Linked DNA regions of Homo sapiens: region 2 is linked to region 1. Evidence: fine-mapped expression QTL. A gene starts in region 1. The other region holds a variant in brackets. All regions are shown on one strand. Distances are between the middles of the regions.

Region 1 (5,376 bases):
TACTAAAAATACAAAAATTAGCCAGGCGTGGTGGCGGGCATCTATAATCCCAGCTACTTGGGAAACTGAGGCAGGAGAATCCCTTCAACCCGGGAGGTGGAGGTTGTAGTGAGCCAAGATTGCCCCATTGCTCTCCAGCCTGGGCGACAGAGTGAGACTCTGTCTCAAAAAAAAAAGTTTCAAAAAGCAGATTAGTGGTTCCTAGGGATGAAAGAGTGAGAGAGAGGGATTATAAAGGAGCATGAGGAAATTTTTAGGGATGATGATGATATGGTCACTATCTTGGGTGTGGTGACATTTTCATTTTCATAGGTATATAAGTAGCTTATCAAATTGTATACCTTGGCTAGGTGCAGTGGCTCATACCTGTAATCCTCGAACTTTGGGAGGCTGAGGTGGGAGGGTTGCTTGAGCTCAGGAGTTTGAGACTAGCCTGGGCAACACAGTGAGACTTCGTCTCTAATTAAAAAAAGAAAGGAATAAATTGTACACCTTAAATATATATGGTTTATTGTATGTCGGTTATATGGCAATAAAGTTGTTTATTCAAATACATGTAGACACCAAACACAAATTACCAACTGGGTCCTGAGCATGCCAATGGATGGAGAATTCGCCAAAAAGGTGAGCCCCACATCTGGAACTTAAAGGTGAGGAAATCCCGAGTGGAATCACCAACCATCAGTAACAGTTTGGAAATGCCTTCTTCTGCCATTTCTCTCCATGTCTGACCCTAGCCACCTAGCTAGTTAGTTTCTGGAATGAGCCCTGGTCTGGGATGAACATGACTCTGGCAGCCTCCTAAGATTGTCCCTCTCTGGCTGCCTTTGGGAAGAGCTGAGCTCAGTGTTGAGGTATTTTCATAACACAAGAAGAGGAGCGGAGGAGAAGCAATGAGGGAATCAAAAGGAGGTGGAGATGAGTTGGAAGGGTAGCTATTCAGAACTGAGTCATCCAGGGGCTGGAAGGGAGCTAAAAGAACACATACTTCAATAATTCTTGTTTAGGGATGAGAACACCAAGACCTTGACCTTTTAGTCACACAGAATTGGGGCTCTAATCCGGGTTTCTCTGTTTCCCATCTCATCTATTCCTATCACCCATTGCCGTTATGCCGAGTGGGCACTATTCACGGTATGCGAGCTGATGGCTTTCCTGGCACTCAACACGTTAGAGTACCTAGTGTGATAAGAATAGAATAGTCTGGGGTCTGAAGGAGCTCACAGTCTAGCAGAGACGGGTCTACACACACAAGTAACTCCAATAACGAAAGCAAGACGGTAATAAGTGTTATAAATGGCGGGGGGCGGTGGCTCACGCCTGTAATCCCAACACTTTGGGAGGCCGAGGTGGGCGGATCAAGAGGTCAGGAGATCGAGACCATCCTGGCTAACACGGTGAAACCCCGTCTCTACCAAAAATACAAAAAAAATTAGCTTGGCGTGGTGGCGGGCGCCTGTAGTCCCAGCTACTTGGGAGGCTGAGGCAGGAGAATGGCGTGAACCCAGGAGGCAGAGCTTGCAGTGAGCCGAGATCGCGCCACTGCACTCCAGCCTGGGCGACAGAGTGAGACTCCGTCTCAAAAAAAAAAGTATTATAAATGAGGTGCTACAGAGGAGAGGAATCTTTTCCGTCCAGAAGAGAGAGATATGGTGATGGGAAGGGAGCAAGGAAGTCCTCATCTAGGAGTCCAACCCCCCAGAATGGCAGGTAGGCACTCCCTAGTAGGTGTTCAATAAATATTCGTGTCTTCGTCCCTTCACATTCTAACCCCAGTCTAACTTTCCTTCAGCCTACCAAAGCCCTGTGTTCCTCCACAGAATGCCGCTTCGTGCCACTGTGCCTTCTGCATCCCCAGTTCTCTCCTCCTGGAATGGAATGTTCTTGCCAATAATGAGCGAGCGGTGCCATGAAACAGAGCTCGGGAGGGTACACAGCATAACAGTTAAGCGCGCAGGCTATCGAGGCCAGCCTTCGGCCCATCCGTAAAAAGGAGATAAGATTTATTTCATAAGGCTGCACCGTGGATTAAATGGACATTCCGGTAAAGCTTTTATTTCAGTCCAGCGCGGAAGGAGGGCTCAAGTAATACTCGCAACGTTTGTGCGAGCGTGGCCACCTTCTCCGCCCGTCCCGTCTCCCCGGCGCCGCTCAAGAGCCGCCCCCTGTCCGCCTCAGCGGCGCCCAGGCACCCAGCAGCGTCCGCGCTGCCACGTCGCCTTCGCTCACCCCAGCAACAGCCGGGTTGACCAGACCGGGGCCCTGAGCTGGGTACCCAGGGCACCGGGCCGCGCCCCACACCCTGCCTGCGCCTTCCGATTGGCTCCTGCAGGTGCCCGTCGTCAGAGGCCGTTGCTGATTGGCTTAGATGGGGGACGGGGCGGGCCTCTAGGAGTGAAGGAAAGGCGGGGACCCGGATGTGTGTGGTGGCGGCGGCCGAAGAGCTTGTGTGCGGAGCTGAGAGGCCTATGGATGAGGAGGACGCGGCGGCCCCGGTAGGCGGGGATCGGGGGCGGGGTCCCGGAGGCCTCGTATCTCCCCGGAGCCTGAAGCGGAAGGCGGGGGTCCTGGGCGGGGGCTCTGGGGCCAGGGGCGGGGCCCTGCGCTCTGGTCACTGGGCTTCTTCTGTTGCTGCACCCTCGGCCCAGTGCAGGGCCTGGGGAGACTGGGCGTAGGCACACGGATGGGCTGGGGCCCGGCTGCTCCCGGGTCTCATCTCAGTGATCAGGCCGTGCCCGGGGAGGAGACAGGGCCCAGTAGGGCCGCCACTCGCCGGTGCCAAGACTGTGGGGTCTGCGCAACCAGCATCTACCTGGGGTTGAGTCCTGGCTGAGTGCCCGGGAGTGGAATCTTAGGGCTGTCTGTCCCACAGGTGCCTACTCTTCTGGGCCACGTGGTGGGTTGTAGCTACTGCATAAGAGTCGTAATTTGCGTATTGGGATCAAATTCAGCCCAGCCAAGGCTTACTAAGCACCTACCGTGTGCAAGGCAATGTCAGGCCTCAAGAAAACCCCTGTCCCAGTGTTTAGGGAATGGGAAGAGAAGAGTACTTCACCTCTTTCTCACTTTTGGCTCCCAGGAAAAATCATTCATTCATTTATATGTAGGGACTGATGGTTGTTTAAATACCTGGATCATCCCACCCCCATCCATCGGCGCTGCTACCGACTTAGTGGATGTCATTTCTCATGTGAACTGCTGCAACAACGTCTGAATTGTTTGCCCACATCTGTTCTTGATCCTCTTGTGATCAGTTCTCCAACCAGCAGCTGGAATGATCTTTAGGAACTGATTAAGATCGTGGCTTTTTTTTTTTTTTTTGAGATGGAGTTTCTGTCACCCAGGCTGGAGTGCAGTGGGACGATCTCGGCTCACTGCAAACTCCACCTCCCAGGTTCAAGCAATTCTCTTGCCTCAGCCTCCTGAGTAGCTGGGATTACAGGTGCGCACCACCACGCCTGGCTAATTTGTTTGTATTTTTAGTAGAGATGGGGTTTCACCATGTTGGTCAGGCTGGTCTTCAACTTCTGACCTTGTGATCCTCCCACTTCGGCCTCCCAAAGTGCTGGGATCACAGACGTGAGCCACCAGGCCCAGGATCATGGCATTTTTTTTTCTTTTTTTTTTGAGACAGGGTCTTGCTCTGTCAGCCAGGCTGGAATGTAGTGGCACAATCAGAACTGACTGCAGCCTTGACCTGCCAGACTCAAGCCATCTTCAGTCTCCTTAGTAGCTGGGACTACAGGTGCATGCTGCCACACCTGGCTCATTGTTTTAATTTTTAGTAGAGATGAGGTCTCACTACGTTGCCCAGGCTGGTCTGGGTCCTGGCCTCAAGCGATCCTCCTGCCTCAGCCTCCCAAGGTGCTGGGATTGCAGGCATGAGCCATCATACCCAGCCAATCATGGCATTTCCTTGCTTACAACCCTCCAGAAATTTCCATCTTGGAATAAAATCCAGAGTCCTTACCATTTCATTGTCTGTAGGGCCATGATCTGACTCCTGCCTTATTCTCATCTTGTACATTCTCCCTCACATTCCCTATATACCAGCTGTCCATGCCTTTTTCTGTTTCTCTACCATGCCAGCTCTCTTCCATCCAAGGACCTGTGGCTGCCCTTCCTGCCTGGAATATGCCTGGCTTGTCATGCCTAGCTCCTTTTCAACTCAAATGTCACCTCCTCAGAGAGACCGCCTCTGTCCACTCTATCCACTGCCTCCAGATTCTTTATCATATCACCCTGTTCTTTTCTCCACTGCCTGAAATTATGTCTGTTTATTGCCTGTCGTGTCCACCTCCCAGCCTGTGAGAATGGGAATCCTGTCCATCTTGTTCACAGCTCCATCCCTAGCACGGAGAAAAGCACACAGAGTAGGTGCTTGGTAAATGTTTGTTGAATGGAAGAAAGAAGATGAGGGTTGTTGAGGTCAATCTGGGCAGCTGGCCTCAAGGCCAGTGCCTTCTCTACCTTCTGGGTCACAGAGGCTGAGGTGCTTTACCTAGGGCCCTGCTTTCTCCTCAATCCCCTTCTCCCCTTGGCAGGTTTGTTCTCATGAACAAGATGGATGACCTCAACCTGCACTACCGGTTTCTGAATTGGCGCCGGCGGATCCGGGAGATTCGAGAGGTCCGAGCTTTCCGATATCAGGAGAGGTTCAAACATATCCTTGTAGATGGAGATACTTTAAGGTGAGTTCAGGAGAATGCTTCCACATTTTCTTCTCTGTTCCAGATCTTAGAGAGGAAAGGGTTTTTTTTTTTTAACTTTTATTTTTTCAGAGAAGGGGACTGTGCACTGCACAGGGAAGGGCGATGCTCTTGACTCCAGAGGCCTTTCTTTTTCTTTTTTTTTTTTAAGACAGAGTCTCGCTCTGTCACCCAGGCTACAGTGCAGTGGCGTGATCTCAGCTCACTGCAACCTCCGCCTCCTGGGTTCAAGCGATTCTCCTGCCTCAGCTTCCCAAGTAGCTGGGATTACAGGCGTGCACCACCACATACGGCTGATTTTTTATATTTTTGGTAGAGACAGGGTTTCACCATGTTGGCCAGGCAGGTCTTGAACTCCTGACTTCAAGTGATCCACCCGCCCAGAGGCCTTTCTGAGTGGAGCAGTGTGTGCTGCTTCACCCTGCACTCACCTCTGCCTCTGTCACTGGGTGGCTCTGTCCTCATCCAGCAAGGAGGGGATCCAGCTGGGTAGGGGAAGGGATCACATCAGACACAGGAGGCTGCTGGGGTCTCAGAAGCTTCCTAGGTGCTTTGTTGAGAAGACTCCAGTGGGGTAACTGAGTCTTCTGCCACTGTCTCAGGGATTAGATCTAGTGAAGAGTGGCTGTTTCAGAGATAGTTGATTTCCTGTTTGGGGAAGGGCCAT
Region 2 (5,376 bases), 360 kb after region 1:
TTGTATAAGGTGGGGATAATAATGCCTTTCTCATCAAGTTGTTGTGAGGATGAATGAGATAAAACAGAGGGTCTGGTGCACAGCGACAGCTCAACAGACAGTAGCTACTGTTCTGGAAGACAGGGCTTCTGGTGTGGGGAGAGAGCACTGGGTCTGTATACGACTGTGCTCTGGTTTTTCCATTTGTGGTATGAAGGTGTTGAAGCAGGTGAGCCATAAGACCCCTTTTCTGAAAATGTGACTTTTCTGGACACAGTTGGGGGAGCAGCAGACCACGGCCAGCAGGCATGGGGATGACCTGAGGAACACCAAGAATGAGATCATGGAGCTCAACAGGATGACCCAGAGGCTGTGGGTGGAGATCGAGAGCATCAAGAAGCAGGTGGGGATGAGGAGGAAAAGAACATGACCAGGGCTGTGGGCTTATGCTTCCATCATGACACTCAGGCCTAGCACCTACGCAAAGCAAAATCATGCCCCCACTCACGTACACTAAGATTTCCTGGGTGATGTGCTGGGCTAGCGCTGAACTAAGATTGTTACGTGGATTTAGTTTCTGCTTCCCTGGAGCTTGAAGGTTGATATGGGATAGAAACTGAGTAAAGACATGATTAGGTGGTTGGAGAAAGAAGTTGACTGTTGAAGACTGAATTCGGGGAGTAGCCAAGGAAGCCCACATCTAGATGGGCTAAGGCAGAGAGAAGGTTTCTCTGATAATTCATGAAGACTTCCTGGAGGAGGGAAGTTTTCAGAAGATGCTCAGTTATTTCCCATAAAAAAGGAGAGAGGCACAGGAAGGGTCTGGCTCCTCCTGAGTTGGTATAGCCCCTTAAAGCCAGGTGTTTCTAATCCCACTCCCTGGTGTGCTAGGACCTAGATCCCAGCCCAGGCTTCTCTGCTGACCAGCTGCATAGCCTTTAACCCCTGTGCCTGGGGTTTCCTCACTTGCCCAACATCAGGTAACACACGTGCAAGCACCAAGCACACAGGACGGGCCGTCAGTGAATGACATTCGAATCTAAATTGGACTCCTGGCTCCCCACACTAAGAACGCCAAGCTGCAGATGACCATCGCTGATGCAGAGCAGCGCTAGGAGGTGGCCCTCAAGGACACCAATGCCAAGCTTCAGGACATCAAGTCTGGACTGCGGCAGGCCAAAGAGGACCTGGCCCTGCTGCTTTGTGCGTACCAGGCGCTGATGAATGCCAAGCTGGCCCTGGACGTGGAGATCGCCACCTACCGGACCCTCCTGGAGGGCGAGGAATGCAGGTGAGAGTCCGTCTGGTTCCCAGGAGGCCAGAGGCCTGGGGCTTTCCTGCCTGAGCGTGCTGCCAGGTGTGGGAGCTGTGCGTTCTGTGGGAGGTGGCGGTGGCCATTGGCAGGCACAGCCTCTTGTTCAGGGCTGGGAGATGCTGTCACACCAAGAAAGCTGTGCTTCCTATGCCATATGAACACGTTAGCGCCTTACCTGGAATAACGTCCTATGTTTTAGCTATACAGTGTATGTCTGCGAAGATGAAGGGTCATAGACATAAATGTTATTTCTAGACCATTTCTTTATTAATGCCTTAACTGCAAGTTTTTGAAGAGTGTGTTCCCGTACACTGGCACATGGGTATAGGGCTCTGTCCCATGTGGGTTCAAACAGCATTTGCTAAATGAAGAGTATCCTGAGGAGGTGGAGAGGATGGGTGGGTCCAGAAATGTTCTGTATCCTCTGGTCTGTATCCCTTTGGGAGATGTCAGTGGAAAGAGTAACACTTTAACCTTACCCAATAGAAAGAAGAATGTGTTTTATGATTTTCTGAGCACCCGTCCAGCTTATTTCTCACTCTCTACATCAATCAGGAGGGAATGGGGGTGGGGTGACCAAGGCTCTCCTTGCTGTTGACCTAAGGAAGGCCGTTTAAGGAGAGGGAGGAACTGAGCGAACTCTCTGGTTTTCCTCACAGGGTGTCTGGGAGGTGCCAGAGTTCCGTGATCCTAGGTGAGTATTGGGTTCTTTCTCCGGGAAGGGGCTGGAGGCCTCGGAATGCAGTTTCTCAAGCCATGTGCCAGCGCTGGTGCGAGGCCATCAGGCCTGCAGGCTGGAAGAGCTGTTGGTGGCTGTTTTGGAGGAACCAACCTCCCCTCCCCTCCTTGAAGCCTGTCCTCCCCACGCCTTGCCGGATCTCGGCGGGGCGTCACCCCGGGAAGACCTGCGGCTCGGGACTGTGGGAGGGGCTGGCGTGCCGGGCGGACACTGCCAGGCTCCCTGACCCCGACCGTCTTTGCAGAGACTGGCCACAGCAGCACTGGCGGCGGCTGCGCCCTGGGAGGAGGAGTCGGAGCCCGGGCCCGCGGCGGTAGCCGGGGCCGCAGCGGCTGGGGCTTGGGCGGGAGCTCCGCGGTGCTCGGGGGGCTTCTCTGGCTCCGGGACTCCTGCGCCGTCAGCCGGGGTGGCGGCGGCGGCGGCAGCAGCGCCGCCAGAGAGAACAAAG[C/T]TCCTCCTAGAGCTGGCGGTCCCGCCACAAATTCTGAACCCCGCGCCAGGGGCGTCCTCGGACCCCAGTCCCCTTCGCCCTCCGGCACGCCCCGCTCTGAGCTCCCCCGCACCCCCGCGGGGCCCCTTCCCTCCGCTGCTTCTGACCTGTGCCCCGGAGCCCCACCTTCCCAGACTGCTGGCATCGCAGCAGCCCGAAAGTTGCCGCGAAGGATGAGTAGGCGGTAAACCCTCAACGGCGGACTCGGCGGCTCATGCCTGTAATCCCGGCACTTTGGGAGGCGGAGGCGGGAGGGTCACTTGAGCCCAGGAGTTCGAGGCTGCATTGAGCTAGCATGGCACCACTGCACTCCAGCCTGGGCAAGTGAGCGAGACCCTATCTCTAAACAAACAAACAGAATCTGAAAAAACATCCACCCACACAAGGCAGTGGCCAGGAGCTGGGCCCCCATGTCACCACTTGTGCCCTGAAGGTGCCCTCACCCCCGCCAATGTCCCACTGCCTTATGGGACAGTTCCAATCGGCCCATTCCCCTCCCTGTAGGCAGGGCCTCCCCGGTCACCACTTCCTGCTGGTACTTTGATTTCCCGTCTTGGCTTCAAGAAAGGAATTCTCTGTTCTGTACAATCTTCGATAAAGTGCGTTGTGCTTCAGACATCATGGTAGAATTTTTATTCTGGTTTCCAGGTCATTGAGACTTTCTTTGTGGCCAGTGGGTCATTCACAGTCCCTTTCACACACACAGCTCTGGTCTGAGCTGGGAGGGGGACCCTGGGGAGGAAGTACTGAGAGTTCCCAGGCTGGAGGGGCAGGGCCTTTTCACCCAAGAGATACTATGGATGACATACATCAACCTTCCTAATTGTTCAGATTTGAATTCATAAACATTTCATTTTATTTGAAAAAAGTCGTAGGTTAGATTTCCTTGTTTTTCTAGTAATTCGAAATATGTATGAAATTATCCAGTAATCACAGCTAATTATAATCAAAGGAGTTGCTGGTAGTCAAACATTTTCAAAAGCAATTATAAAAATTCAAATGTTTTATGGCAAAAGTTATATATGCCAGGGATGTATGTTAACATGTTTGATATGATGTGGGGCGGAGCCTTCAAATATTGACAGTTATGAGAACAAAGAACTTCAAATGGTTTGGTAACAGGTCACCTCCACCCTCATCCCTACCCCTACCCCAGATGAGAGCACAGAATACAGGCAGATCCAGGAATACTTGGATAAAACAGAGGTTTGGTGCCGGATGTGGGGGCCCCTTGCAAATTAGGGCATGTGAGTGGGAGAAGTAAAACATAAGCAAACATGCAAAGGCATACGTGCATGGTGGCCTTCCTGGTAAAATGCTCACTAGTGTGGGGGACTGAGAAAGGTTGTCAGAGAAAGCAAGAAAGAGACAATTCTCCTTGATAACAGATCAGAGAAACTCTTAGCTAAGTACACAAAAAGCCAAGAGGGATAGCCAAAGGCTCACCACACTAGAAAAACAACACATAACTACAGCTTCAACAGAGAATGTTCCTGCTGTAGGGTGAAGCACTTATCTGGGATAGTCTAAATCAGAGAGCAGGAAGCCTGGGGACTGTCCACTGCAGTTTGCACTGGGAGGGGCTATGGCTTCACCTCTCAAAAACAAGCCCACTGTCCAAGGATTCTCTTTTCTCCACGCCCTCATTCTTTTTTTCTTTTTTATTATTATTATACTTTAAATTCTAGGGTACATGTGCACAATGTGCAGGTTTGTTACATGTGTATACATGTGCCATGTTGGTGTGCTGCACCCGTTAGCTCGTCATTTACATTAGGTATATCTCCTAATGCTATCCCTCCTCCCTCCCCCTACCACATGACAGGCCCTGGTGTGTGACGTTCCCCATCCTGTGTCCAAGTGTTCTCATTGTTCAATTCCCACCTATGAGTGAGAACACGTGGTGTTTGGTTTTCTGTCCTTGCAATAGTTTGCTGAGAATGATGGTTTCTAGCTTCATCCATGTCCCTACAAAGGACATGAACTCATCCTTTTTTATGGCTGCATAGTATTCCATGGTGTATATGTGCCACATTTTCTTAATCCAGTCTATCTTTGATGGACATTTGGGTTGGTTCCAAGTCTTTGCTATTATCTCCACGCCCTCACTCTTATCCTTTATCTTTTTGATATAGCCATCGTAACAGTTGTGAAGTAATGTCTCATCGTGGTTTTGATCTGCGTTTCTCTGATGGTTAGTGATGTTGAACACTTGTACACTGTGGGTGGGAAGGTAAGTTTGTACAGTACAGCCATGATGGAAAACAGTATGGAGGTTCCTCAAAACATTAAAAATGGAACTACCATATGACCCAGCAACTCCACGTCTGAGTATATATCCAAGGGAAATTAAATCACTATCTTGAAGAGATATCTGCACCTTCATGTTTACTGCAGTTTTATCCACAATAGCCAAGATATGAAATCAACCTAAGTGTCTGTTGATGGATAAATGGACAAAGAAAATGTAGAATATATACACAAAGGGATATTATTTAGCCATACAAAGGAGGAAATCTTGTCATTTGGAACAACATAGAAAAATGGAGGACATGATGCTAAGTGAAATAAGCCAGACATTGAAAGACAAATATTTTAGCTGGGCGTGGTGGCACATGCCTGTGATCCCAGCTACTTGGGAGGTTGAGGCATGAGAATCTCTCGAACCCGGGAGGTGGAGGTTGCAGTGAATATTTCAGCCTGGGCGACAGAGCCAAACCCTGCCCTGTCTCAAAAAAAAAAAAAAAAAAAAAAAGACAAATACCTTAGAATCTCACTATATGTGTAATCTAAGACAGTCAAACTCATAGAAATGGAGTTGAAGGGTGGTTGCCAGGAGTTGGAAGTAGGGGTGGG

Evidence for each region. PIP is the estimated chance that this variant, and not a neighbour inherited with it, causes the effect.
Region 2: its variant is the best candidate, but not a certain one, in a credible set for the expression of SPRYD3 in whole blood (GTEx, PIP 0.64).

What each region holds. Positions count from the first base shown.
Region 1 is chr12:53,076,430-53,081,805 of GRCh38, reverse strand. SPRYD3 (SPRY domain containing 3) reads left to right here and starts at 2,416. Exons shown (of 11, transcript NM_032840.3): 1 at 2,416-2,495; 2 at 4,545-4,691. The coding sequence starts at 2,473. RefSeq lists a silencer at 2,436-2,715.
Region 2 is chr12:52,711,471-52,716,846 of GRCh38, reverse strand. It overlaps the pseudogene KRT126P. Among named protein-coding and RNA genes, the nearest start is that of KRT77, 11 kb to the right of the region's middle. The variant C/T (reference allele first, on the strand shown) is at 2,482.